4 separate regions of the Homo sapiens genome follow, and regions 1, 2 and 3 are each reported to be linked to region 4. The links are microRNA targets in miRTarBase. Many come from high-throughput screens and were not tested one by one. Region 4 holds a microRNA gene; each other region holds the end of a gene's coding sequence.

Region 1 (7,124 bases), not on the chromosome of region 4:
TAAACAGTAAGACATAAATGTAAATTTAAAATTTGTAGGCCGGGCGCGGTGGCTCACGCTTGTAATCCCAGCACTTTGGGAGGCCGAGGCGGGCGGATCACGAGGTCAGGAGATCGTAGACCACCCTGGCTAACATGGTGAAACCCCGTCTCTACTAAAAAATAAAAAAAAAATTAGCAGGGCGTGATGGCGGGCGCCTGTAGTCCCAGCTACTCGGGAGGCTGAGGCAGGAGAATGGCGTGAACCCGGGAGGCAGAGCTTGCAGTGAGCCGAGATTGCACCACTGCACTCCTGCCTGGGCCACAGAGCGAGACTCCGTCTCAAAAAAAAAAAAATAAAATAAAAATAAAAATAAAATTTATAAGATTGTTATAAATTTCATGCAATGATCAAACTTTATAATTGAAGGATAAGAGATATAATGGGAAAATTTAAATTTTTCCATTGTCAAGATTCAAATTCAGGACTGCATAAAGGTCAGAAAATCTTAAAAGAGAGAGGGAATTAAATTATTGTTATTTTTGCCTTTATATAGAGACAAATAGATACATTGGTTAGTTGTGATAGAGAATTCAGGTCAAAAAATATTTTGGTAAGCTTTTTGGTGCTATTGCCACAAATTTAAAATTTTGGGTATCTTCATACTGATTGGAGAATTTCGTGTGCATTTCTGCCTCTGTATGTACCAGGATGTAGGTGCGTGCACATCCATGGGATAGAGCAAGGTGAGAAAAATCACTAGAATGTTAGTTGAGATAACCTCTGGGTGGATGGAGAGATTATATATGCCATCCTATATGTGCTTTTTAATTCCATTTTCCATTGGCTATACATTACTTTTAATAATCCAAAGCAAATCTTTAACCATTAAATAATGCAGCATTAGATAATTAGACAAAAAATTATGAATATTTTATATTGCAATGGCATAGTTAATACTTTCAAAATGACAGTGTAATTAAAAATATGATTCCTCTCCAATCTGTTTATATTGGACTTAAAAAATTGTGATAAAAACTTGTTTTACACAAAGACAAAAATTTTACCTTTTTCTTTTCATACATGATCTTATCACCTGTTTTGCATTCAGATTTAGTTAGCTTATGCTAATTAAATTTAGTTAGCAATTGTTAATAAAAATTTCTCTTTTTGTCTTTAATAAGATGGTCTCTTTCCTCAGCAAATGCGATTTTTAAAAGACTGTGTTGTAAAACCATACTATTTTCTTTCAGCTAACCCCTGCATCTACTATGATGAATACTTCGACTGTGACATACAAGTCCATTATCTGGGATGCAACCACTCAACAACTATCCTATTCTGTAAAGCCACTTGTCTGTGTGACACTGAGATAAAATAGGTCTTTGTTATTTTCAACTGTTCTATGCTGTGACGATGAGGAGGAGATGTCTGTTGGATTCATGTCTTTTGCTATAGTTCAGTAGCTTCTGCTAAATTTCACTGATTTTAATCATGCTGGAGACCTTAACTCCCATCCTGATACATCCTGAAGTAACACTGTTTTAAACTTTCTTAGTGCTGGAGTAAAAGGTCAAGTCCAACACCTGCCTTAAATTTAAATCATGTGATTTATAGTTTTTAAGTTGGCATAATTCAACTTATGGTATAACTGGGTCCCTCAACAGTAACCTGGGCTAAAATAGGTCTTATGTGGTTCAACTCCCACCCCCGCCTTCCCCATATTTTCAACCACTCTGATTATCTTCCCTGCACAACTAACATCCAGTAATAATTCTTCACTTTTAAAATTTTACTTCTACTTTAAATCAATCATTAAAGGAATCCACAAAGCAAACAGAGTTCAGTCTCATCTTGCAAGGTAAATATCATTTAATTGGAAGTAGTTTAAATGTCTCATTGTTTTATTGACACATCTATATATACATTTGTGAAGCAAGAAACAATAAAAAAGCTTCGTATGCCATTAATTTAACAAAATATGTATTCAGTACTGATTGCATACAAGATGCATGTTTATATATATGGAAGGAATATAGTTTCATTTCATTGCAAAGGCAGTATAAAAGATATATAAAATAGCATAATATGAGAAATTAAGTCCCTAAAGACATATAGGTCACATATTATTATTGCCAGATGAGCATAAATAGCTTCTGTTTGGAGATTCAGGAAAGCCTTAGGGTGGAATGAGGAACATCTTCTGAGTAAACAGGGTTGCAAAGGTTATGATTATTTCAACACAATGGAAGAGCACAGTTAAGGCCAACTAACGTAAAATGCACTGAAGCCTTAGGGAATATTGAAGGGCCTGACATGGGGAAAGGGAAGGCTAAAAATACTTGGTCAAATTTTAACATTATACCAAAGTTATACCCAGTTCTACCTACTTGTATATTTCTTTACTCATTTCAATAAAGTGTTTGAAAAAAAAAAAAAAGACATCACCCACTTTCCAAAAGTAAACAGGTAAGCCATACCTCAAACCCATTCTGCATCATACAGAGGTTCTCGTCACAGGTACAAAAATTCTGTGTGGCTCCAAGAAAAGAGGACAATTTGAGAATGACGCCCTCTTGACATGACCCATGTCTTTCCATTTAGATCTATGGGCATTTCTCCCATGTAAATCCTTCAGACCCATTCTCACTTTTTACTTAAACTACATATGTTAGATCTATCCACTTGATTGTATCTATCTTTTGAGTAATTGTCATTAGCACAATCATGGACATATTAACATCAGGAGAACAGTGACTCATCCTGGGACACAGTAAGTAGGCTGGTACTTTATAGCCGAAATATTTAATAAATGGAACTCATTACAAAAATCAAAGTAATAATTTACTCTAAGAAAATTAAATGTGTGTGCTGTAGAAAATCTTTACTCATTTTTGCATTACCAGGTATTGTGATTTCTCTTACCTCACCAAGGTAGCATTAGATTTTAGAATAATTAAATTAGAGCCCTGAGTTCTGAATTTTGCATGCTAGATAACCAACTAATCCTGCAGTCTACTGTAACATATTGGCAGGCAGTGTTACTGTATTCTTACACTACAATATGCTCTTTCTAGAAATTAACATGATACTTCTCAAAATTTGCATTCCAATCACATCTCTTCCCACTTTGCATAAGAGTAAGCATATTCAAATATTTCTTAAGGGTTGGGGAAGGAGGAGGAAGGGTATGCCTACGTCTAAGGAAAATCAAATAAGCAAGTAACAAAACTTTGACCTCATTTGTCTACATTACCCAAATTTAAATAATATGTTGGCTTATCTCACAATAAATTGTATTTGTTAAATATAAAAAGTATTCCCCCCAAAAAATATCTCAGAGCAAACTGACTGTGTGAAAAGTACCCTGTAATGAAGAAGGTTGGGGGCGGTGGATGACCTCATGTACACCATTCTTCTATTATCTCAAAAGCTTTCAGAATCACACATATTGTTTGGAAAATCATTAAAAAAGCTATTTTAGATGACAGAGAAAAAACTCTTATTTACCATGCAACATCTTTCTAAAAAATGGAAACAGTCTTACACCTCTTTCCAAATGTTATTGAATATAGAATAAATAATAACAAATAATTCTGAAGCAGAAACAATATCCAGTGGCAGTCTGTACTTTCACAGTAGTAAAAGAAAAAAAATAGTTCTAAGTGTGTAATACAAAGATTAAGAGCATGAGCAGAGGTGTCACCCAGCTGGTTTGAATTCAGGACACAACATGTGCTTGCTCTGTGACTTTGAAAAAGATTATTTTTCTTTGTCCTCATCTATAAGTTATAGTAAGAGATAGAACCTACTTCATAAGTTTGTTTTAAGGATTGAATGAGTTAGTATGTAAAATCCTTAGAAAGGTATCTTGTGCTTAAAGTGTGCTCGATAACTATTAGCTGGCATTATTATTCATTCTCTTCAAACTCCAGTCCCTGAGCTCTGCCTTTCAGACATAGTTGAGCGGCACGCTCTGGACTCTTCCCTTTTGTGAACTCAGCAGTGAACATGTGTTATGGTGATAAATGAACAGTCTCTGCCCCAACCCAAATAACATAACAAGTATGGAATAATTTATTAATACAATAAAGGAGCTTTCACAGAAATCTATAGTATAAAACTACCTTTGATTAAAGAAGACATTCAATTTAGTAGAAATACCTGATTTCACCACATTATTTAGTAATTCAATGCAATCAGAATGGAAATATCAAGAAGAGCTTTTATAGAATTTACATGTTTATCCTAAATTCATTTGGAAAATAATTATTCAATAGAGACCACCAAAATTAAAATTAAATTAAAGATGTGTGTTTTGATAAAGATATTTACATATGAGAAAGATAATTTTTGGAAAACAGTATTAAAATACTAGGGCAGGAAATTTGAACAAAATCATGACATGAAATCTTGAAAGTATTTATTTGAAGATAGTAATTTCACTGGAAAACAAAAAAAAATGTATAAAGGCAGAAGTACAGCAAGTGAAAGGTTAAGATTAATTTTTAAATCTTTTAAAAGGTCGATACATAGTTGATCTATGTGACTTATGTATGTTTACATAAATATAGAAAATGAATCTATAGATTGATAATAATGAAAAGTGTTACATTAGAAAAAAAAGGAGAGAAAAACCACCAAATAGGTACAGAAATGCACATGCCATTAAACAGAAAAGTTACCTCTTTCATAATGCAAAAAAGTGTATTCCAAATATAGTTAGGATTATCTTTCTGTCCAGCCAAGAATAAATTAATTATATGTTAAAATCTACCCATCAGAGAAGTGGGAAGAGGCAACCATTTCAATACATCATTAGTGGGAACTAAAAGTTTGTAGAAAGACCCCTATTTAAAGATACCAAGTGATATTAAAAATAACATGGTTTTTGGTTTGTTAGTTTCTCATGAAGGAATGTATTATACTGAAATACTCACATGCAAAAATGTATCTCTATAAAAAGATTTTTACTTAAGCATTATTTATAATAAAGGAAAACCAAATGCTATAAAAATACACGTAAGTGCAATAAATGGTTAAGTAAATTAGGAATGATCCATGATATGAAATACTATGCAGGTGGTTAGAAAAACGATTAAAGTTTTTATATTCTTTTGATGAGAGATGCAGTTTTCCAAAAGTCAAAATTATAGAATCTAATACAAATGACATGATCCAGTCTTTCCCTCCTCCATCTACGTCCTCTGTTGCTCTCATTCCTCCTTTCACTCAAGCATTTTCTGATTTTTTACATTTCTAACATCATAACTGGAAACACTTTATGCCGCTGTGAGTTATTTGAAATATCTAATCCTTTGATTTCATTTTATTAAATTACATAATTTGAAAAAAATGCAGATAAACCTTTTCAGACACACGTTTTAAGTAAGTAGAGGAATGAAAGTGAAAACAAAATATTAAACAGTGAATCCTTAGTGTTGCAAAATATTAATATATTCAGTGATCAAGAAGCACAAATCTTTGCCTGTTTCAAATGAGGACATAAACATTAGTAAATTTGAACATTAAAGAAATATGGGGCCAGGCGCGGTGGCTCACGCCTGTAGTCCCAGCACTTTGGGAGGCCGAGGCGGGTGGATCATGAGGTTCAGGAGATGGAGACCATCCTGGCTAACACGGTGAAACCCCGTCTCTACTAAAAATACAAAAAATTAACCGGGCGTGGTGGCGGGCGCCTTAAGTCCCAGCTACTCAGGAGGCTGAGGCAGGAGAATGGCGTGAACCCGGGAGGCGGAGCTTGCAGTGAGCCGAGATCGTGCCACTGCACTTCAGCCTGGGCGACAGAGCGAGACTCCGTCTCAAAAAGAAAAAAAAAAAGAAAAAAGAAAAAAAAAAAGAAATATGGCCAACAGTGTAGCTACAAACAAAGCCCGATACCTGGTATTTGTTTTTAGTTTCAGTGTGTTTTATTTTCCCCAGAATCCACTCTTTTCTCCTGAAAGTTGATATAAAAGAAAGTTCCCTAGGTTTCCACCATGTGTCACATGACTTGCAGGAGGGAGTAGAAACCATGTTTACTTCAAAGATGAATATTGGTTAAGTGACTTAAATAGCTTCATAGGCTATCTCCAAGAAAATGTGTGGCAAACAACGGTGTAATTTTTCGGAATGGTCTTCAACATCACCCTCATGTCCATAGCTTATCAACAGTGTTTATGGACAGAGTAGCACATTTACTCATAGTATGAAAACTCATGGTATATTTCAAGGTCACTGTCTGGGGAGGAGTGTCACAGACTCAGGAGCCCAAAACAGATATGTGTTTCTCTCTCTCTCTCTCTCTGTGTGTGTGTGTGTGTGTGTGTGTGTGTGTGTGTGTGCGTGTGTGTTTACATGTAGGAATGAAAGTCAGGATGATCTGTGAAGCAAAGGTAGAAAAGGTCACCATTCAGAACAAAAATCTGTTTAGGTTGTCAGGTGGCAGTGGAGGGCAGGGTGGCACAAAATAGATCTAGATTACTGGGTAACTTGAAAAGAAAGCCTAAATGAGGTCCCAAACAAAGGTAGCACATTCTTGACTCTCCATTATAAGAACACTACAATATATACTATATTCTATATAGATTTATGTGGAGACTAAAATAAAAATAAAATCTTTCAAAGAAAATAAAATCTTTCAAAGTGTCCAGACTGATAATTGCCATGCAAGGTAATAGTGGACTTTTGAAATGTGCTCAAAGCCTAAATAGTTGGGACATCATGGTAAATACTGTGTTTTCCTTAACAAAGAAGGACACTGCTAAAGGAATGGTGATACCAGAACAGTTCTGGGATCATATACAGGAAACCATTGTATCATAGTAGGAATGTGGTACGTTCCTTATACTTATATTAGCCTGTAGTTACTGCATGTTTTTATGGGAAGAAAAATCAAGAAGCAATATAGAAATTTTCATACTGTGAAACCAATGGCCTCATGTAAAAATGGAATAGAAATGTTTTTATCCGGCTTCACGGAACTTGAAGTTCAGAATTCATTACCACTTAAATGCAAAAACCTTCCAGAAAAGTACTTCCGAAACAAGACCATGAGGTGGTATTTATGGCATTCACAGCAATATACACTGCATTTAGTAACCCTTTTAGAATGAAGCATTTGGGCACAAAAGGACCATAAATAC
Region 2 (7,124 bases), not on the chromosome of region 4:
CTTGAATAAGTCCATTGACCTCTTTGAGCTTCAGAATCCTTACTTCCATAATATCTTAAAAATTTGTGAAAGTGTTCTGTGAATTGAAATATGCTCTATAAGCAGAGTTTATTATTATTAATTTAGGTTCTGAATTATCCTTAGGAAAGTAAGCATAGTCTTCATATGAGCAGCCCTGAATGCCAATTTTTTAAACAAAATCTAATGATAATCTATTTGAAGTTAATTAAAAAAGGTTCAAAATTTGGTTCTTTTTCCTTACAATCTTTGGAAAATGTTATGAAGTAATTTGAATTACATAACTTCAGAAAGCTATATTTTAAAATATGAATCATAATTAAAATGTGGTTTATTTGATTATTTTAAATAATTTAATGTATATAAGAAATGGAGTGTGGAACAAATAGGAAATCATTCCTCTCAAAGTGAGATGTTTCATTTTGTAAGAGAAAAAGTAGAGCATCTATTTAGAGTTAATGAACGGTAAGTTGATCTGTGTAATATACAGTTTGTAAAAGCTCACCAATATCTTCCCTCCCTTACTTATTCCTTGCATGTAAAATACTTATTGCCATAGTTTGACCAAAACCTAAGTTATTTTTTGATAACTCTTTCTGAAATATTTAAAATGAAGAACGTTAAAAGAAGCTGCACTCTCTTTTAGGAATACTGAGAATTTGATCCCTAATGTAGAATAGATTTCTTAAAATATCATTAGTGTCTAAAATGAACAGAAAATGATACATGCCATTGGTGAGCCATATGCATCCACCACCTCCAAAAGCAGGTAATAAAGAGCTTTAAAATAGTCCATTAGCTGGCTGATCTATTTGTATGTGCCTTATTGATGCTATACTGGTCTTTACAAATTAATTTAATTGCTATTGCCAAATAATTGTATCTAGTGAGTATACCTACTTAAGTAAATATTATCTGGAGGACTTTAACATTTCATTGATATCGAGTAAGCCTGTGATATATGTCCCTTCCACAGTTTCCTCCTAATTGCAGCATAGCCAGACAGGGAACTTCATTTGAAAGACTCAGTACGCCCTCAACCCTGGTCAGATTGTTCAGGTAACTCAGTTATCAGCTTGGTGTACTTGAGGGCAGTGAAGGAATGGCATGGTAAGCATATGGATTTTGCTGTTCTTAAAAGTAAAGTTATTTTCTTTATGTAATGAAATTACTTGTATTAAGTAGTAGTGTTAAGGTAGAATAAGGTCAATTTCTATGTTAGTAAATATCACCAAGCAAAAACTATACATATTCTAAGGGCAAAATGTAATTGGCTTAGCACTTCTTTGTACCTTAGGATCCTTGTATAGCACCTAGTGCATAAGTGGTCTTCAATAAAAAAGAAAAAGCAAGCAAATAAATGAACAAAAGGACAAATATGCAAGTTATTTAATCTATAACAATAAATCTAACCTATAAAGATCTTCTTAGATATGGAAAAGCAATGCACTCTTCATGATATATGTTATGCAGCTAGAAGAAAAGTAAAATTTTAAAAAATTCCAAACAAAAAGAATATTACACTAGTTTGAAATTTAGAAGATGTCACTCAGTTAGTGAAATGGCAGATATGTGGGATGTGTGGATTAACTAAGAAAAAATGCAAACGACCAAATCTAATTTATAAAGAGTAATGTGTATTAGAATGTACCTAATTACTTGTCCAACAAGATAGTAACTCTGACACCATTCCTTTTTAGTGTTTACTCCTGAGGCATCATAGCCCAAGGCAAACACATAGTAGGAATGCAATAGATGCTTGTTAAATGAGGAGAAAAGGAGGTTTATTATTTTTAAATGCCAAGATAAATATGTGTTTACTTTAAAATACCATTTATACATATTGTATATATTGGATTCTGTACTATCTGGAGTTTCAGGCATTTACTAGGGGTCTCAGAACGTTTCCCCTGCGGATGAGAGAGGACTATTCTATTTGCTTTCATTAGTCATGTAAGATTATGACAGAGCTTATAAATGTACTTTTCTGAAATCCTCTGAGATCTTATGCCAAATTCTCTTTATATTAATTGTAAATATTTAAAACCACAAATATTATTAGGCTATGACCCTTTGGTAATTATTTAACTAGCCAATTTATCTAAGCTATGTGAAAGATTGTTAATCCACTTCTATTGAGAAACTAGTGATACTATCAAGTAATTTTTGTTTAAAAAAGTCTTATTTTAATGGCAAGCAGATAACTAGCAAAATGAGCTGTGATGCCACAGTTTGCTTTTCCAAAATAATTATGATCAGGGTCCCTGTGATATGCACAGGGAAGTGTGTAACACATCCCTTCTGGGTTAATGAATTCAAGGGAAGGCAACACCACTATTAGTAATAGCTTTTTATTCGGAGTCCTCATTTTCCAGATAGATCACATTAAACACAGCCATTAAACAATAGCGTTGAGATAAATCCATACAATGTATGCTGCTTTTGTTGTTGTCCTTGTTCACCAATCACTTGGTGCAGCTAAGAACTTTATGGAGTGATGGGCTGATAATGGAAATAGCCAACCTGCAAAACACTGGGGCCAGGAAAGTCAGACTTTAATCAGGTCTCATTCAATAATATTTAGAATCAACACATCTTGATAGCCAAAACTCTCATTCGAATTAGTGCTCTGATGAATGCTGTCTGTTGTCAAAAGAATATAATTAGACTATTATGACTGGGCATATATTATGCCAGACCTGTCTATCTGTTGACCTCAGTAACTTTTACTCTATTAGATAACAAACAGCTTTTAACCTGGTTCTAAAAAAGCATATGCTCTATTACTACATGACTTTTTTATGGTGCCATATTTTAAATTGAACAATATCTAGATCCTTTAAAGGGAAGTCATGTTTTACAAGATTTCAGCTAATTTTGGAAAACAAAACAAGTTAGTTTCTCAACCAGGAATTCAATTAACCTATGGAGTAGTGAGCCAATCTTTGTATATTGCCTGCAATAAAGTTAGAAATGTCAGGTTAAGAAATAGCATGAAAGAATTCTTTGAAATTGCATGATATGTCTCTTTAATGTTTACTTTGGTATACGTATAACTAACAGATTCTCACTACTTTTAACTCTGATGAAAAGGTTATTTTGTTGCTTTTTTTTTTTTTTTTTTTTTTTAGCTCATCTGCAAGCAATTTTTAGAAGTTTGGGTTTCTTACTGAAATTTCCATGAAGTGATTTTTTTTTCTGTGCTTAACTTCAGTTACTTAAAGACCTAAAAGACAAAGTGGTATCACATCACATATTTTGTATGTGTGGGCTTTTTTGAGGGGTTAGTACTTGAAAGATATGAATTGATATTTTTTTCACATTCTAAATTATGTTAAAACCCCTTCAAATCTCACTGTTTGCTCATGCATCACCTATTAGAGCAAGGTGCTCTCTAAAGGTGTGATTTTGGCATCTCATAGGCTTCCTTGAAAGCCAAGCACCAGAGGTCTGCAATAAAGGCAGTTGCCAGCTAAATGAATAAAAGCGAGATTTCCTCAATTCAACTATAAAAGCTTAGAGTCCTGACTGCTGAATTACCACCAACTTGTAAATAAATAATCACTACTAAATACAGATAATGTGTTAAACAGCTAACACTAGTAAATCACTGGTGACAGAGAGCCTAAAGGTAAATCCCTCACACATTGGCACAACCAATTATTACAACCTTATGGTGTTTTAATGTCCTCAGACACATATAATAAATTGAACAACTGGTTACTTAGCATTAAGAATGTTTATAAAATAAACCCTACTCTCTTTGCTGGTTTCATTTACATACTGCTTTAGATTTTACTAAGTGGATATCTGTCTAGTAAGAGAGAAGCAACACTTGGTAAGACTAAATGGAAATCAGTTTTCCATCAAATTTCAGCTATCAAGCTAAATCAACCTGTAGTCTCCTGGCAAAAATAACATCATATAACAGAGACAACACATTTCAGATACATAAATTGTCCAAAATATAGAGAGTCAATTAGGTTTCACATGTACAAGGTCCCTTCTTTTCTAATTTAAACATTTATGAGTAATAAAAACCAAGAGTAGAGCTTTGGAAAGGCTGTTACTAGGAACCAAAATATAGTTCTCAAGAGAATAAGGCTGATGGGAGTTGTCCACTCTTCCCTCTCAAAGCAGTTTTGCAAACGAGGTACAGTCTAAAATATTGATGGCATTTGGCGGAAATATTTTCAGTAGAAGTTTTTAAAGTTTAAAATTACAAAACTTAATTTAATTCAATGTTTGTTTTTGCTTTTGTTTTTGTTTTAAATATAAGAATTTTTATGACATTTTTGCTGTTTCTACACTGGCTTGGTGGCCAGAAGAGAAGGCACAAAATTATCCACCAGTTTGCAAATAATGCATTTTTCTGCTCCAGTGCTCAAACAGCCTTTATTTAACTCAGCACCACATTTTCTAAGGTATGGGCACAAAACTGTTTGTCATGAAGCTGTAAAATGCCAAAAATTTTAAATGCTGAAAGAAAATGTCAATCAAGGCATTTTCCCATCTGCTGCTACTTCTGCAAGTGCTAATTTTATTTTTCCCAATTCCTGAAATTTGAGGTTTCTTAGCCTCATATGGAAGTAAGTTTGAAACTCGCTAAATGTCACAAGGAAAGGTGTAACCAAATGAAGGAATAGAAGGTGTATTGTTCTCAAAGGACACCAACAAAAAGAGGCAGAAGAGCACTGAGATAAAGGAAAACATTTTGTTAAGACCCAGACCTCTTGAAAAACACTACACAATGCAAGTAACCACTGCTGGTACATACATGCATTAAAGCATTTTTCATGTTTTCAAAATATAATGGGAACACACATCTGAAGCACTTAAAATACTTTTGAGAACCAACTGATGGCATAATATCTACACAGGCAGAAGCTGTATGTTATTGAAAAAACATGAAGAAGTTTCAGATATTGGTACAAATGTCAATTCTTGTGATTTAGCATGACTTTAATAAAAGCTTCTACAAGGACTTGCACATAACCATGACTGATGGATGTAATTTTTGACCTTTCAGTTAGCTCCATCAGCTCACTCAAACACATTTTGAACAGATTATGTACTGTAGTACTTGGTAGACTATACATTAAACAAGAGACTTTGCTCTGAGGCACTGCTTCCCACACTCCATGGGGAAAAGGAAGCAGGAAAAAACAAAACTCATAGAGTTCGACAGCTACCAAGGCAACACTTGCCATTTACAATATAAGCCCAAATATTTTTGCAACACAACTATATATTAATTTAATAAAATACACAATATAGCTCTTACACACTCAACAATTTGGCTCATATGCACTGAATCTGCAATAAATCAATAAAATATGTCATTTGATGTAAACACATTGAATCTTCTTACATTTGCACATTTAAATGGTCATGTGACTTGCGTATGTCTAAGACATTTTCACTTTCCTGAGCTATTTTAGTGTCCACAAATGAATAAAACATATTAATCAAGTTAATTTTCTCTGAATCTTACCACTCAATGGTAACTATTTTTTAGAACTTTTCTATGTCAAATTTAAAACATATTCATCATTGTTTAAATCTTTGTTGGACACTAAAATGCTAAATAGGCATTTTAAATCTTTAAGTTTTCTTCTTCTTTAATGACGTGAATTAGTCTACGTGTGTGCAGGACAAAATGGACTGTATCTTTTTACATTTAACTTTTATATGACATGAGATGTCTTACAAATGACCAAAGGTTTTTTTTTTGTTTTTGTTTTCGACTAATGATATGGAATGTTCCTTGTGTTTATATGTGTGTCAGGTAACTTTATACAGAAATGTTTACCACAAATATGTGTTAATGTTTGGTGTAGCTTGGACTACTGCAAGGTCTTTTCAGGACTTTCAGTAGAAGCCTGTGATGACTGCTAGAAATCCACCACAGATCACAAATTATGACCCTGCTTTGTATGGGGTTTATAGGTAAACAGTTAAGTCAGCATAAATCACGGAGGACAGTCTGAGAGTGATCAGAAATACTTCAGTTCTCACACTGCATACCTTCCTAACAGATTGTCAAAAGGTAATTCTTCTCCTCATCCTCCTTTTTCATCTCTCCTTTTTCTTCTCTCTTTTTTTCTTTTCTCTTTAAGCATCATTAATTCTGTCCTAATACAAGTTTGGTCAAAACGAAACCATTGTTATCTCTGAAAAAGAAATCAGCAGTGGAAAGAACATACTTGTGGGCACTTCAGATGTTCACTAAAAGCCTTAAAGCAGCATTGGTCTTTCTTCATCCCTGTAAAATGGGTTATCACCAGGAGGGATCATTTTTAAATCAACAGAAGAGACAAGAAAATGCCAATGCCTTTTTTTTTTTCTTTTTTCACTTTCTCACAGCCACAGGGTCGTTTCCCCGGCAGTCTTGCAAAAGCTTATCAATTTCTCTCACAACTTCCTCTGCATCCACAGACTCTCTGCCCAGATCCCTGTTGGGGTGGTCAAGCTGCTCAAGAACAGCACCCATCTCACTGGAATCCCGGCTGGCTCTGGAATGCACATCTGCAAAGACCCTTGCCATCTGATCGGAAGCCATGAAGGGAGGGTCTCTTGGTTGCTTACTAGGTGACAGATATTGACTGTCAGTGGGCAAGTACTGACTGCTTGCTTCAGCCAGGGCTCCTGGTTTTGCTTCACAGCCATCCAGGGAGCCTTTTGTTGAGGTGCAAGGCTCGATGCACGCCTTGGTTGGGCTGCTTGATGCTGAGGGGACCTCTTGGAGGAGAGGGCTCAGGGCACGTTTGGCTTTTAAATAAGGTTTAACGTTGGCAATGAGAATAGTGTGCTCTCGCTTGTCTTTTCCAAATGTACAAAAAGTCTTTTTCCCAGTGGGATTCACAGTTTCGTAAGTCTCAGTCTCAACATTAGCTTCAACTGTAGGTACAAAGAGATTTGTGCGGTAATCTGCATTTTCAGCCTGATTGGCTGCAGGGAACTGTGGCATCCAGCACCTGTCAGAATGACCAAGCACTCGGCATTCATCTGTGCAATTAACACACTCTTCTGGTTCTGCAAAACAAAAGAGAAAACAGCAAATCCAATCATTAGAGTTTTCTTTAAATTTCTACAGAGGCTGTGAT
Region 3 (7,124 bases), not on the chromosome of region 4:
AAATGGATGGAAAAGGGGCAGCTGTCTCACCATCCTGTAAGTTAGGGATATGGCTTACCACACAGGCCTAGAGGCTTCTTGTGACCAGGTCCCAGAAAACTTTATTACATAAAAAGTAGATTTACTGCAAATATCCCAGATGATAACGGTTTGCCTCTATGTCCCCACCCAAATCTCAAGTTGTAATCCCCAGTGTCAGGGGAGAGAAGTAATTGGATTATGGGGTGGTTCCCCCATGCTGTTCCCATGATAGTTTTATAAATGGTAGTTTTTCCCGCGCTTACACGTGCCCTCACCTGCTGCCATGTAAGACGTGCCCGCTTCCCCTTCCACCATGATTGTAAGTTTCCTGAGGCTTCCCCAGACATGCGAACTGTGAGCCAATTAAATCTCTTTTGTCAGTTACCCAGTCTTGGGTATTTCTTTATAGTGGTGTGAAAACGGACTAATATAATACACCAGGCCAGCTCTATGCCAGTCCCCTAAAAGAATCACCTGCTAGAGATGCTCAGTAGCAGTGCTGGGTACCAGCCCTTCTTCCTGCAGCTTCCAAAAGCTGATAGCCAATACTCTATTTCACCTGCCCATAAGTGGGCAGCATCCGGTGATAGAGGCTGCTGCTGGTCTGGAGAGGAAAGAGGAGAGGCCCTTTCAGGAATGCAGTCCCTGGAGGTTTCTCCTTCCCTGCCTGAAGGATTCCAGAGGTCTGAGATAAACCCCAGGCTGTAGTCCAGCAAAGAGCTTTGGGCTGTATTCCTCTGGGAGACAGCAATTGCTAGAGAGAGATTTTATTTTAAAACCCCCATTCCCACTGCGGGAGGGAGCAGTGGTAGCAGGCATTGGGAAAAACTGTGTTTGAATCAGGAAGGAGGCATTCAGCTAGATGTGCGTATCCTTTCACACTTTCTGCTCTTCCACATTTGTTCCCTATCGTACCCTTAAGAATTATTACTGAAAAACTCCAAGGGCATGTGTTAAGATCACAGTGATTCCTAACATCAACTCTCCTTCTATGTTTTTTCCTCCCAAGGCTTTCCACTGGGTTGAATTTTAAATTTGAACAATGGTTCAAAGGCTGAGAGACAAACTGCTCATTACTGGAAAGAGTGCCAGGAATCCTGGGAAGCAGGCCTCCCTCCCCACCGGAGCACTGCACCTCATAGTAATGGCCTCTTTCATAGTCACGGAAAGGTTGGATCAGCGTTTCTTTTCATTCCTGTCTTTTTTCAGGGACTGCTGGGATAAAAGGAAGTCTAGAAGAATAAAAAATTCACAAACAGGAGAAGAATAAAATATTTAGGGCAAGAGATCAGAAATCCTTTGGTTATTCAGTGAACTGAACTAACTCTACTTTTTTTTAAAAAAGTACAAGGAAATAAATGTCCATCAAATGCCATATCACAGTGGGATTAGCCTGTCGACCCCATCACACAGGATCTGAGGCTAGGTTATCATGCCTAGTAAGTTGCAGTAAGAGAGACTCAGACTAACCCAGTGATAAGATGGAACAGTTTTATAATTATTAATTTCATTCCCAATATTTCTGACATCTTTATTCTGAGAAGCTTTCCACCAAAGTTGTCAAATGACCCATTTCCTCTCACTTCACACTCCCAAATCCAATCAGTGATGAGTAGAAGGAATGGAAAGGTTATTTGGTGCCATAAAGAAAACCCAGTCACCTTGGAGGAGCAATTCAGGCTTTCCATCATTAGTTCCCATCGCCAAGAACAAATGATGGTTTCTAAAAGGGAAGACAGGGTTAAAACAACATGGTTGAGAAGTACATACTAGGCCGGGGGCAGTGGCTCACGCCTGTAATCCCAGCACTTTGGGAGGCCAAGGCAGGTGGATCACCGGAGGTCAGGAGTTTGAGACCAGCCTGGTCAACATGGTGAAACCCCGTCTCTACTAAAAATACAAAAGTTAGCCAGACGTGGTGGTGCATGCCTGTAATCCCAGCACTTTGGGAGGCTGAAGCAGGACAATCGCTTGAACTAGGGAGGCAGAGGTTACAGTGAGCTGAGATCACACCACTGCACTCTAGCCTGGGTGACAGAGCAAGACTCTGTCTCAAAAAAAAAAATACATTACTAACATTTATCCCTTTATTCTCTTTTTTCCCACCACCACACCTGGCTAATTTTTATATTTTTAGTAGAGACAGGGTTTCACCATGTTGGCCAGGCTGGTCTTGAACTCCTGACCTCAGGTGATCCACCTGCCTCGGCCTCCCAAAGTGCTGGGATTACAGGTGTGAGCCACCGCGCCCAGACTTTATTCCCTATTAATGTGATCTTCTTGGAGTACTTGTTGGAAAGCACTTTAAACATCTGGCTTTTACGCAGCAGTCAGAAGGTTTTTTTACACCCCAGAGCTAAGGTTAATTTGATCAAGAGACTAGGTCCCTCCCAGAGTGGTGAAGAAGTGGTTAGGTACTAAAACCATGGCATCGTTTCTAGTCACACTGCATCTGATTTGGTTGTGTGATAGCCCTAGGTTGGCATTGGGAAGGCTCTTGTCCAGAACCTATCAATAAGCATGTTTTAAACATTCCATGCGCAATAATTCAAGCAAAAATAACTTTATGGGCTACTTTTTTCTTTACTCATCCACAGAAAGCATTTGTATGTCAACAAGAACTTTGCTCCTTGCCTGTTTTCACTTCAGCTTACTCCTCCCTGAAAATAGAGTTGTTTGATACAATTGGAAAAATCATCCGGTTGGTGTGAGACATTCACAGCAACAAAACTATGTTGGTAGAACAAAGCTTCCTGACTGCCAAGTGTCCAGAGAAAAAGAGGAATAAAAGAACCCAGCATTCACACATAGGACCACTTAAAAATAGATTCTCCATTCTCCTCTTTTCTTACAAATACACACAAATCTTTGACCACAGTGTATCTGATTTATACACAGAATTAACTTCTACATTAACAATAATTAACAGTTGCGTGCTTATTACATATGAGGTACTCTTCTAAGAGCATTAACTCATTAATTTTCACAACCCTATGAGACAGATCCAATTATCCCAATTTTACATTTGAAAAACCTGAGGCACAGAGAGATGAAGTAACTTGTCCAAGGACCCACAGCTAGGTGGCAGAGCCAAGATAGAAAAACCCAAGCAGGCCAGGTTGTGGTGGCTCATGCCTGTAATCCCAGCACTTTGGGAGGCTGAGGCAGGAGGATTGCTTGAGGCCAGGAGTTCAAGACGAACCTGGTCAACATAGCTCACTTTATATTTACTTTTTATAATTAAATAAATAAATAAATAAAGGAAGACACCAAGCAGCCTGGCTCCAGGGCCCATGCTCTAACTACTATACTATACTGCTTCTGCAACAAAAAAGAGAATGATCTTTTCTAATTCCTACAAAGCTTTATCCTCCTATCAAGTATGCCAATTTACATTCTTTAAGCAGACACATGGACCCAGGTTCATCTTAATGTAAAACCAAGGATCAACTTTAGTCTCATCCAAAACACATCAGCTCTCTTAAACACACCAAACGTTACCCCCTTTAAAACATAAAATACACTGAGATCGCTGTTCAAGCATCATACTTTCTAACAACAGGAAATGTTTGCAGAATTAAGGCCCTGGACACCTTCTTCAGTTTAAGCAGTCAGCACTTGATGGATCTTTTGTAGCTGTAACAGAATTTAAGTAGCTACTTTCTGAAAGAAAAAGTCAGTTTAACAAGACCCTAATTTGAGAATGTTTAATTCTATAAATACATTATTATGGCGACAGAGCATAAAGTACAAAGTTCCCTATGCTTAAGGAACCACTAATAGATTTGCCGAAATATCAAGGCACGAGGCACTGGCCTATTCAGCTAAAACAGAAGTTCGTATAATTGGGAGTTAAGGCCAAGACACCATTCATATGCCTCTTATGCTCGAAGGCTATGACCTTTAAACCTTTGTCTTTCTTCAATCTCTCCCATCTTTTAAATACCCTATATACTCGTAAGTTGTTAGAAACCAGTACCATCTTTTAAAGTCCTGGCAACTGTACCGTATTTTAATAAACACCATTCCCTAATTGATTTGCTTCTGAAATAGATTACTGAATACCTTTCAAACATTGAACATGAAGAGACAAAAAACTCTCTTAATGGCAGTGATTTTAGTAAAATCGATGGATGTTTTGGCTATCATCACCTAAGTGTCTACCATGACCAAACACTGATGTCACCATTTAAGTAACAAAACAAATCAGGAAGTTTTGCTAAATGAGAACTAAATTTGCCTAGCCCTCCTTCCTTATCTGGTTTGATGCAAACAATTTCCCTCTCAGCAATATATTTACTTTCTAGATGTAAGAGAAAAACTGAAAATTTACATCCTGACATCCACTGTGATGCAGAGGTGGACCTGACAATTTGGACAAGTCAGTCTCTTTCATCTTCCTATGTCAGTTCGAATGGGCTTTTAAGGTAAACTACTATCTAAACTTTTTTTTTTTCAATTACAAAGCTAAAAGATGACCCGTATTAATAGCTTAACAGGAAACAAAGTTTTGCTGAAAAACATTTTTGTGGATAAGCGGGGCTTCAAAAGTTGGTTAAATTACTTAGTATTAGACACCCACATATTGGGTGACAAATTGGTCTAAACTGACCTTAGAAAAGGCAGTTGTAGTGGCAGGTTTCTAGAACCTGACAGGTCGCCGATATTAGTATCTAATAGCAGTCCTCTGATCTAGGAGGAAAAATTAAACGTGTCTCTCTTGATACTTAGTGGAGTCAGTAAACAATGTCCTCAGTCTGCGAATGACTGATACTAAGAACCACACCTTCAATTTTCTAGCTCAGGCCCTGGTTTCCCTCCTCCCACTTCCCTCCCAACCCAGGCAGGTTATTACAGACAAGCAGGCAGTTACGTTGCTTCAAAATATTTAATACGTGTTAGACACGTAGAAGTTACATTTTTATACAAAAATCAATACAACGAAGGAGAAAATACTGTACAAAAACCTTATCAGCTCCCCCAACCTTTATACAACAAAGACTGGAGTCACCATATCTACAAAACCATAAGGTCTTTCCACTTCGGGCTTCTGTCTGTAAACTCTCATTAAACACTTTTTAAAAGCACTGTGTAGTACTTCTGACCTAGAGCTTTTAAAAATATATCTTTTCTCTATAAACTCCATTATTTCCAAGCTTGAACTCTTCTGTGAAGTTCGTCAAGCTTTTTCTCCCCTGCGGGGAAGCAAAGGACCGTTAATACGCCCCTTTCCTAGAGTAATCACAGGATATAAACGTTTCTTCATTGGGAGAGAAAGGTGGGGAGGGACAGAAGGAATCCAAGTCTGTGCTCTTGGCTAAATCCCTCTCGTCTTAGGAAATCCTGTGCGGAAACGCCACTCCTGGCCCTGAAGCGGGTCTAGCTTTCCGGTGAGGGGTAGGTGTAAAGTCCCTCCCTCCCCGGAGAACGAATGGGGAACTCCCCGGCCCAAACCTTTTAGCCGCTTCCTTCTCCACGCAGCCGGCAGAGGAAAGTCCCTGTCTGCCCCCAATCTCTTAAACCCTGGGGAAGGAGTGGTGCATTCCAGAAGAGCAAAATAGTCTTAATGCCACAAGACAAACTTACATACACAGACATACACAAACACAAAAGTTAACGATCGTCCTCTTCCAATGAGCCTCAAGCTCCCAGGTCTCCAGATAAGCCAGATGCGCCCGGGGGCAGTTTGCGATGCCCAGAGGCAACCAGTCTGCCCAACGCGCTCAGCGCCCGCGGTCTCTGGGCGTCCTCGCAGCCGGGAAGGGCCTGGCCCTCACTTCGGGGACGCCCGCTGCTCCACCTCCTCCCCGCAGGGGGGCCAAGGGCTCAGAAGGCCACGATGGCTGTGCTCCAGGGGTTCATGTCTCTCAGCACCGGCTTATCGCAGCAGATCTGCCCGGGCTCGGCGGCTTCCGGACCGCTCTCCTCTCCCTCCTCTTCCTCTCTGCCGCCCCCGGGGCTTTTCCGTAGGAGTCCCGAGAAACTGGAACCGAAGATGCTGATGAGGTTAGCCACGTTCCCGGTCTCCATCTCCTCCGCGTCGTCGTCCTCTCCTCCACTCGGCGGCTGCTCTAAGTTCCGGCGGGGCTTCTTGAGCGGGGTCGAGCCGGGCGCCGGGCAGCCCGCTGGGCCGCCGCCCACCCCCGCCGCGCAGCGCTTCCTGGGGCACACCGCGGGCGGCGCGGGGGGCTCGTCCTCCGCTGGTTGCGGCGCGCAGCAGCAGGCAGCGCGGGGGGTCGCGGCCGGTGTACCCGGCGGGTCCTCCCCGCCTAGGGGGCAGCCGCAGGGGCGGCGCGCGGCACGAGATACCTCGGGGAAGACGCCCCAGCCTCCGGCGGTACCCTCGGCTTCTCTGGCCGCCGCCTGGCGCGGCCCCTCCACGCGGCTCCAGGCAGCTTCCGTCGCGTCCGCCTCTCCGCCCTGAAAAACGTCCCCGACTCCAGTCACCGTGGCCACCGGCACCTCGTCCCCTACCCGCGGCGCGTCTGAGACGGAGGAGCGCTCCGGCTGCGGCTCGGTCTCCGGCCAAGAGGCACGAGCGGCGGGCGGGGGCGGCTCTCCCCAGCCGGCGGGTGGCCCGGCCGCCGGCTCCCCGGGCTGCTGCTGCGGTGGCGGCGCCGGGGTCCCAGCGGGACCGGCCAGGTAGAGGCCGGGGCACGGGTCGCTCAGGTAGACTTGGCGGGCGCTGCGCAGCACCAGCGAGACCAGGAGGTTCTTATGCAGCTTGATGCCGCCGCGCTGGACCCGCGAGTTGTAGATCTTGCCCAGAGAGATGCTGACGATGCGATGAGCCTCCAGCTTGAACTCCATCTGCTTCCCCTGCACAGGGCCGTCGGCGCCGGGGTGACACGTTTGGAAATTGGGAGGGAACGGGAGGCGCAAACAAGTCCGCCCCCTGGGCACACCCTCGATCACCTAAGACTCCGAAGAGAAACGACTCTGGTGACGCGCGCGCTGCTCTACTAACCTCTCCAAACAAGACAACTTCCCCGTTTCGGGTCCGGTCGCTAAACAGGGCAGCCTGGCTGCCCCGCGCCTTATATAGGCTTCTCGACCGCCAATCACGAAGGGCCGCCAACCGTTCCGGGGCTGGCCGGCGCGCC
Region 4 (7,124 bases):
GTAGTTGTTGAAGATACGAAACCTGGCATGGTGAGATGAGGCTAGAGAGGGCAGTAGGGCCTGGTCACACACTCAAAAGGACCCTTTGGGCTAAAGAGTTTGAACTTTATCTTGACGGCAGTAGAGAGCCAAAGGAGGGCTTTGATAAACCATGCTGGCTACTTTGTAGAGCAGAGGTGGGAGGAAGGCCAGATGACATGTGGAGAGGCCAGTGTAGTGGGGGCCAGGATGCCTGTAGGGGAAGTTAGGGGTGGCTCAGATCAGGGTGATGACTGAGGCTAAGGAGAGTAGGGTACCCCCCATACTTGCCTAGGGTGCCGTGGCAGCAGCTTATAGGCCTGAATGGACATCCATGTGCTTTGGTGGCAGGGTCTCCTGGAGCCTCTGGATCCTCTTAGGCTGAACACACAGGTCCTTTCAGCCCTGTTATCCTAGAGTTGGAGGCAGCGGGGAGCCGTGTCCAGTTAGGTTTTCCCCCTTCACAGAAGGCAGGCAGGTTCTTGTTCAGTGCCAAGCAAGACCAGTTTGTTCTCAGCAAGCTCATGTTCTGTCTCTAGGCTGTTAAATACATTGTTAAAACTCAGGCTGTTGCATTTGGGTTGCAGCTGGGAGCTTGGCAGAGATTCTGCCTGATGAGGTAAGGAGAGAAGCTAAGGACGCTGCTGGTTTGCAGCTGGAAACATCTTTTCATGGCCATTTGGCCAGATTGTAAATGTCTTTTCCAAAGTTCAGGTTTGGTGGGACCTCTGGTTGTATGTCTTGGAATTGCCCTGTGTTTAGAAACAGTGCCAGTCGCCTGATGGGTGAATCACTGTTGCTGGGATGTTGGCAGGTTTTGCAGGACTTTCCTGTGGGGGTCCAAACACTAGGGCTGGCAGGGCCCGTTTGGAGTCTGTTTGAGAAGGGCCTGCTTTGTTTTCTTTACATTTTAAGCATATGATAAAATAATTTTAAAAATTGCTATAGAATTTCTTGTAGAAAGATTAGAGAAACAAGCATAAAAATAAAAAGAAATTATTTCACCAAGATATAGCCAGATGTATGACTCTTTTCTTGCATCTCTCTATATACACATATACATTAATTTTTCCTTACAAAAATGGAATTATAGAGTGCATATTATTGGGGCCCACTTTTCTCACTTAACAGTATGCTTAGATCTCTTCATGTTGATATATAGTATTCATTTTTAATATACTCCATAAAAACTCATTGTATAGAAGAAATGTAAAATCTTCTATTGTTGTAGTTTCCTAATTTGAACAAGTCTGTGGTGAAGTATTTTTTGTTGTGTTCCTGGTATGGGACAGACATTGTTCTAAACTCTGGGGATGCAGCACAGATAAAACTCAGTATTGGTTTTCTGCTCAAGATGTCACTTTGTTTTTCATAAAAGTGGGTTTGACATTGTTCACCTCCAGACTTATTCCAGTTGGATTCTGAGGGTTTCTGGGAGGGCTTTTAGCAGCACTGGACACTTTGTAGGGGCACTCAGCAGGTACACATACTTTCACCTACTCTGTCTTAAGCAAGCTGTGGGCATAGTTATGAGATGGGTTGGAGGTTGGCCTTTCCCACATTGTGGGGCACAGTCCCTCTCGGATGCTGCCTCCTCCCAATCTGACTCTAATTAGAGGACTTTTTGTACAGAGCCTTTTGAGTTAAGGGGCCCAGGCTTGGGAGAAATGGGGTAGGGCTCCAGAGTACCCCTGCCAGAGATGTCAGTGTTGATGTGGTAGTCTGGGAGCTGCTGCTTGGAGGTGCCCAGCTCTCCAGGCTAGCAGAGTTAGTTATCCCCTTCTCCCACCAGAGCAAGACTTTGCAGGCTCTTGGTAGGTAAGTCATCTGTAATTACCTGTGATTCTTTGAGGCTCTGCCCAAACCCCATCTGTGATTCTTTGAGGCTCTGCCCAAACCCTATCTGTGATTCTTTGAGGCTCTGCCTCCAGGCTGAGATTCAAGAATGGGCTCAGTCTAAGCCAGATCGCACATTCCAGAGAAATCACAGCTGGTATTCATGTAATGAAGAAACCTGGCTTTCCCTGAGTGTTGTGAGGTATGAACCGTAGATGATAGGAGCAGAATGATTTGAAAGGAATGGACAGACTTCCTCCCTGGAATTTATCTGGCCTCTAAAAAGGTATGCAACTGCAACTGGAGACACACCTGGGTAGAGATGCTGGGTTCCCCACTTCCAACCATGTCTGGTTTGGAACCTGCCTGGGCCCTGTTCTCCCACCACCCCAGCTCTGAGGAGCAGTCAGCTGGTCCCTTTCTGATCACAGATACATCCTCCCAGCTCTATGTTTTCACTGTCCCCTCCCTACATACATACAGAAGGTGCTGAGCCTGAGCCAGTCAAGCCTTTTGAGGAACAAGAAACAGACACCCAATCCCTTAGGTATAAGGGGCTTGTGTAAGCAAGAGAGAAGCCTTCTGAAATCCTGGGATAGAGAAGACAGTATAGTAAGGCCTTGGAGCAGACCTGTGGCTAGAACCAGGAGGGCCTGGACTCTGCCTCAGGGCAAGCCCAGGCTTACTCACTTTCTCTTGATGACTTGCTCTCTTCTGCTGCTCTAACTCCCTAATGGACCCCTTAGCACAATACGCCCTACCCTGCAGCAGGTTCCAGGTTGGAAGATAATTGTCCTGTGTGTCTTGGGACCCCCACACCTAGACTATGACAGGAAGACTGTCAGCTCTGCAGACATTTGGCATAGGCATGAACACATGGCGCCATTCACTTATGCTTTCCTTCTGATAGAGGATCCATTTGCAGATGGGAGTTGTGGTTGGCCTTCTCTGAGCCTAACCTGGAATCTCAATGGATTAGGATTTCTTCTGAAAGAGTAAGATGAGGAATGGTGGGTGTGCTGTGTGTCTAATCAAGTATGGCGGGCAAAAAACTGATGAACTGGCATTATCTTAGACTTAGAATTCTGTCAGATAAGGCTTATGTTTTTTTGGGAAAGCATTTGTATTTCCTTTGTTTTGCTTGCTTTGTCTTAGTGAATTTCCATTTGAGCACTCCAGTGGGGTGCTCAAAAGCAGGGCAGGAAGAAGACCGGCAGAGCTGGGGTACAGATGGGTGCTAATCCTCCAGCACAGTCTAGGCTGCATGGCTGAGCTGGGAGACGGTATCGGAGGCTTCTGTTGTGGACTGAGGTTTACTGCCAGTGGGGTTTGTCTCAGGTTGTGCCTATTTCTGGGCTGATGAGAAGACAGTAGCTGGCCCCTTTCCCATGTCAGCAGCCCAGCCTGAGGTTTTGGCCATGTGTGCCATATTCATTTTTGTATCCTGAGTGCCTAGATCAGTGCCTGGCATCTGCAGGTCTTCAGTAAATATTTGTGAATGAATGGTGACGGGCCAGTGAGAACAGTGTCTGCCAAGGAGCCTTACTACAGGAAGAACACTGTCTACCTAGGAGACTGTCTCCTCTGACTGCTCTTTCTCTGGCAGGTGCAGACTGACAAGGGTTAGTTTTATTCCTCTTCTGGCTGGCCATCTGTTGTACACCTTAGTTTGGGTGTTGGTACTCTGGAGGATATTGTGTCAAATTATCTTTCTGTTATTGTCTCTCATGTACTGTTGCCTCCTTGTGGGCAGGGACTGGTTCCCCAAAACCTGGCACTGTCCTGGCATATGTGTTGGAAGGTAAGATAGAAACAAACAGCAGTCTGTGAAATAAGAAGGAGTGGGCCAGAATCTTGGACTGACAGACCATTGGAACCCGAGCTGACTGTACCCCACTGCGATTCCGCCTTCTCATGGTACAGGTGGTTGCTGGGAGTTGAGAGGATGGGCTCTCTCCGCAGGGCACGTGACTTCCCAGAGCAGGGACCAGAATTGAGCACACATCACTGGCTGCACGCTCTTTGTTCTTTCTGCTGTTTGTCCTTTTTAGCTTCTGTGTGCTAGGCCAGGATTTTGATATGTTTGATTATCTGCATATGTGTGTACATGCCTATGTGTCTCCTCACCTAAATTAGTCTTTTTCACTTTGTTGATCCAGTGATTGTCATTGAATGCCTTTCAGACACTTCCCTCTGTGACCATGAAACTCTGGGTGTCTGCATTGCTGATGGCCTGGTTTGGTGTCCTGAGCTGTGTGCAGGCCGAATTCTTCACCTCTATTGGTACGTGCCAACAGGACTGTCGTCTCCCTGACACCTTGGCTCACATGCCACGGATGTCTCTGGCTGCAGCCTGTTCTCATTTAGAGTGGGATAGCCTTAACTACTGGTTTTGGCCAGTTCTGAGGAGAGTGGAACTGGCAGAGTTGCTGTTTTCCCCTATAAGATCCCAATGATCTGGATGTTCAGGGAGCCAGATGTCTGAATTGGGTCTTTCTTCCTGGGAAGTGCAGGCTGCACTTGGGCTCTCTGGTCTTTTTGACCACCTTGCCCATGGACCAGAGAGTGGTTCTGAGCAGCAAATCCTTTGTATCCTGAGGATCAAGCTTTTCCTATCCTTCCGACCTAAAGTTCAGAGCTTTTTATCCTGTGGTGAGCCCCCAGGATATCCATGCCCCAGTGTCATGACCAGCTATGTAACAGTCGGAGAATGAGATTTAGGGCTGCTTCTTGAGTGACATCCAGTGCACTTATCTCAAACATCCCCTTGGTGCCTCTGCCTCTTTCTTCCTGAAGTTGCGAGATAGAGCCCCATGAGTGCCTAGGCCCCCTTTAACTCCAAGTCCCCATAATCCTCAGAGAGCTGACATGTTCTTATCCCAGGGGACTTGCTTCTGTGCTGGTATTCTGTGCCCCAAGGAAGGAGGCTGGACATCCCTCATCTGTTTCTCACTGGTGTCTTTCTTCTCTCCCTTGCAGGGCACATGACTGACCTGATTTATGCAGAGAAAGAGCTGGTGCAGTCTCTGAAAGAGTACATCCTTGTGGAGGAAGCCAAGCTTTCCAAGATTAAGAGGTGTCCTAAGTCCCCAACCATCCTTAGTTGGCCTTCCTTCCCTTCTGCCCCTCAAGGAACAAGGAAGCCATCCAGGGTGCCTATAAGAGGAAACCTTTGAGAGGGTGATGTGGGGCTGGCCTGGTTACTTCATGCCAGTGCTTGAGAGGAGCTAAGTACATGGGCTAAGGAGTCACTGTTTATTTTCTATTTAAGACCTTTTCCCTTACATTGGGGGTCCCAGCTGTTATCTAGATTAAGGGGCTAGAAGTATCTGTGGGGAGTTACTGTATTCATTTTTCATTGCCTCTTGATGAAAAGGGCCCCAGAACCTGGCACCAGGGAATTCTCACTAGGAAAATTGTCACAGGTCAAGACCTATGTGGGTGGACGCATTAGTCTTCCTTTTCCTCTGGTTCCACAGCTGGGCCAACAAAATGGAAGCCTTGACTAGCAAGTCAGCTGCTGATGCTGAGGGCTACCTGGCTCACCCTGTGAATGCCTACAAACTGGTGAAGCGGCTAAACACAGACTGGCCTGCGCTGGAGGACCTTGTCCTGCAGGACTCAGCTGCAGGTGAGGGACGGTGAGCAGGTGCTTGAGTGAGCCCATATGTTTGTGTGCTCATGCCTGGGTTGTTGTGTCTGAGCCTGTCTTGGGTCTGGGTGTTGGTGGGCAAGTACATTGTGGAAACAGGACCCTGCTGGTCTCATGGCTCTCTCCCTTCTCTGTGGGGACCTGGAAGTTGGCTGGCCTTGGTTTTTAACATGTAATGATGTTCAGTTCTTTTTTTAGCGTCTTTTTTTTAGTGTCTGTCTTTTCTTATTTTTTGCTAATGACATTTTTCCAATTATACTTTAGTGATACATGTTTATAGAAAAGTCGGAAAACACAAAAACAAGAGAATTATAATTCTTAATCCAGTTGCCCAGTGGTGAGCATTATTAAAATTGTAGTTTTTCTACCTATGCATATACATTTAAAAAATGGAACTATACATACATACCAGGGCATGCAAACTCAGTTGCTTGGAGGGACAATGAATTTACAAGTGTCAAGTGGGCTGGATGGTGGGGCCAGGGCAAGTTGGGGAGCATAGGTCTGATCTAAATTCATTCCTATTCATATGTTTTACAAACAAAGCATATCTGTTGGTAGATTTGTGACAGAAGAAAAAATTCTGTGAATTTCTCAGCTTCTTTATATGCCATTCAATGTTCTTCTGCAACATGATTTTAATGGCTGGATGGTGATTACCTGTCAGATGGTGATAATCTGTCATACTGATAATACTGTCAAATGGGTCAAGTCATTGGATATGGGATTTTTTCTGAATTATCAGCACCTTTTTACATATTTCTTGGTGTATACTTCTGATTACTTTTTTAGGGTAAGTTCCTAGAAGTGATATTACCGATGAGAGTGTGAACTTTTTAAAAGCTTTAAACTATACTTGGTGCTTTTATTGTGATAATACTTTTTATGCCCTAATACTTTTCTGTCAATAAGAAGAGATGGTACGGTGGGCCTGGAGGTGGGCTCTCCTAACTCCTAGCCCTGGGTTTAGTCCCCTGGACTCACTGACTTTTTTTTTTTTTTTTTTTTTTTTTGAGACTGAGTCTCACTCTGTCACCAGGCTGGAGTGTAGTGGCGGGATCTCGGCTCACTGCAACCTCTGCCTCCGGGTTCAAGCAATTCTTCTGCCTCAGCCTCCTGACTAGCTGGGACTATAGGCACATGCCACCATGCCCAGCTAATTTTTTTTTGGTATTTTTAGTAGAGACAGGGTTTCACCATGTTGGCTAGGATGTTCTTGATCTCTTGACCTCGTGATCCACCCATCTCCACCTCCCAAAGTGCTGGGATTACAGGTGTGAGCCACCATGCCCGCTGCCTTTTTTTTTTTTTTTTTTTTTTTTTTTAAAGGGACAGGGTCTCACTATATTAGCCTAGACTGGAGTGCAGTGGCTATTCACAGGTGCGATTGTAGCACACTGCAACCTTGGACTCCTGGCCTCACGTGATCCTCCTGCCTCAGCCTCCTGAGTAGCTGGGACTATAGGCACAGTGCCATTGTACCCAGCTCTTCACTGCCTCTTTTCCCTGAGCTGTGAGTGCTGATTAACTTCAGACTAGCTGTCTCTCTGGCTGAGACATTTTAGCCCATGTGGCCAGACTGGGTTGGGCCTGGGGGCAGGGTGGCCTCTGGAGAGGG

What was found. The annotated mature microRNA hsa-miR-6830-3p reads UGUCUUUCUUCUCUCCCUUGCAG and lies in region 4 at 4,811-4,833, shown strand. An mRNA with a match to its seed (bases 2 to 7 or 8) in the 3' UTR can be bound and repressed. Matches are read on the target gene's strand: a 7mer-m8 pairs with bases 2 to 8, a 7mer-A1 pairs with bases 2 to 7 and ends in A, and an 8mer does both.
Region 1: the mRNA of CRISP1 is a reported target of hsa-miR-6830-3p. Seed matches in the 3' UTR shown: 7mer-A1 at 2,086-2,092.
Region 2: the mRNA of PCDH17 is a reported target of hsa-miR-6830-3p. Seed matches in the 3' UTR shown: 7mer-m8 at 6,270-6,276.
Region 3: miRTarBase lists IER5 as a target of hsa-miR-6830-3p. Seed matches in the 3' UTR shown: 7mer-m8 at 5,053-5,059 and 8mer at 3,934-3,941.

The regions. Positions count from the first base shown.
Region 1 is chr6:49,829,552-49,836,675 of GRCh38, reverse strand. It overlaps CRISP1 (cysteine rich secretory protein 1), which reads left to right. Exons shown (of 8, transcript NM_001131.3): 8 at 1,233-2,419. The coding sequence ends at 1,360. Among named protein-coding and RNA genes, the nearest start is that of CRISP1, 33 kb to the left of the region's middle.
Region 2 is chr13:57,724,541-57,731,664 of GRCh38, reverse strand. PCDH17 (protocadherin 17) reads right to left here. Exons shown (of 4, transcript NM_001040429.3): 4 at 2,354-7,053. The coding sequence ends at 6,371. Among named protein-coding and RNA genes, the nearest start is that of PCDH17, 96 kb to the right of the region's middle.
Region 3 is chr1:181,088,610-181,095,733 of GRCh38, reverse strand. It overlaps IER5 (immediate early response 5), which reads right to left and starts at 7,034. Exons shown (of 1, transcript NM_016545.5): 1 at 2,834-7,034. The coding sequence starts at 6,831. The coding sequence ends at 5,848. RefSeq lists silencers at 5,227-5,521, 6,096-6,315, 6,516-6,675, 6,986-7,124 and an enhancer at 5,536-5,705.
Region 4 is chr5:132,215,558-132,222,681 of GRCh38, reverse strand. MIR6830 (microRNA 6830) reads left to right here and starts at 4,764; the gene lies at 4,764-4,833. P4HA2 (prolyl 4-hydroxylase subunit alpha 2) reads left to right here. Exons shown (of 15, transcript NM_001017974.2): 2 at 4,038-4,137; 3 at 4,834-4,930; 4 at 5,334-5,485. The coding sequence starts at 4,056.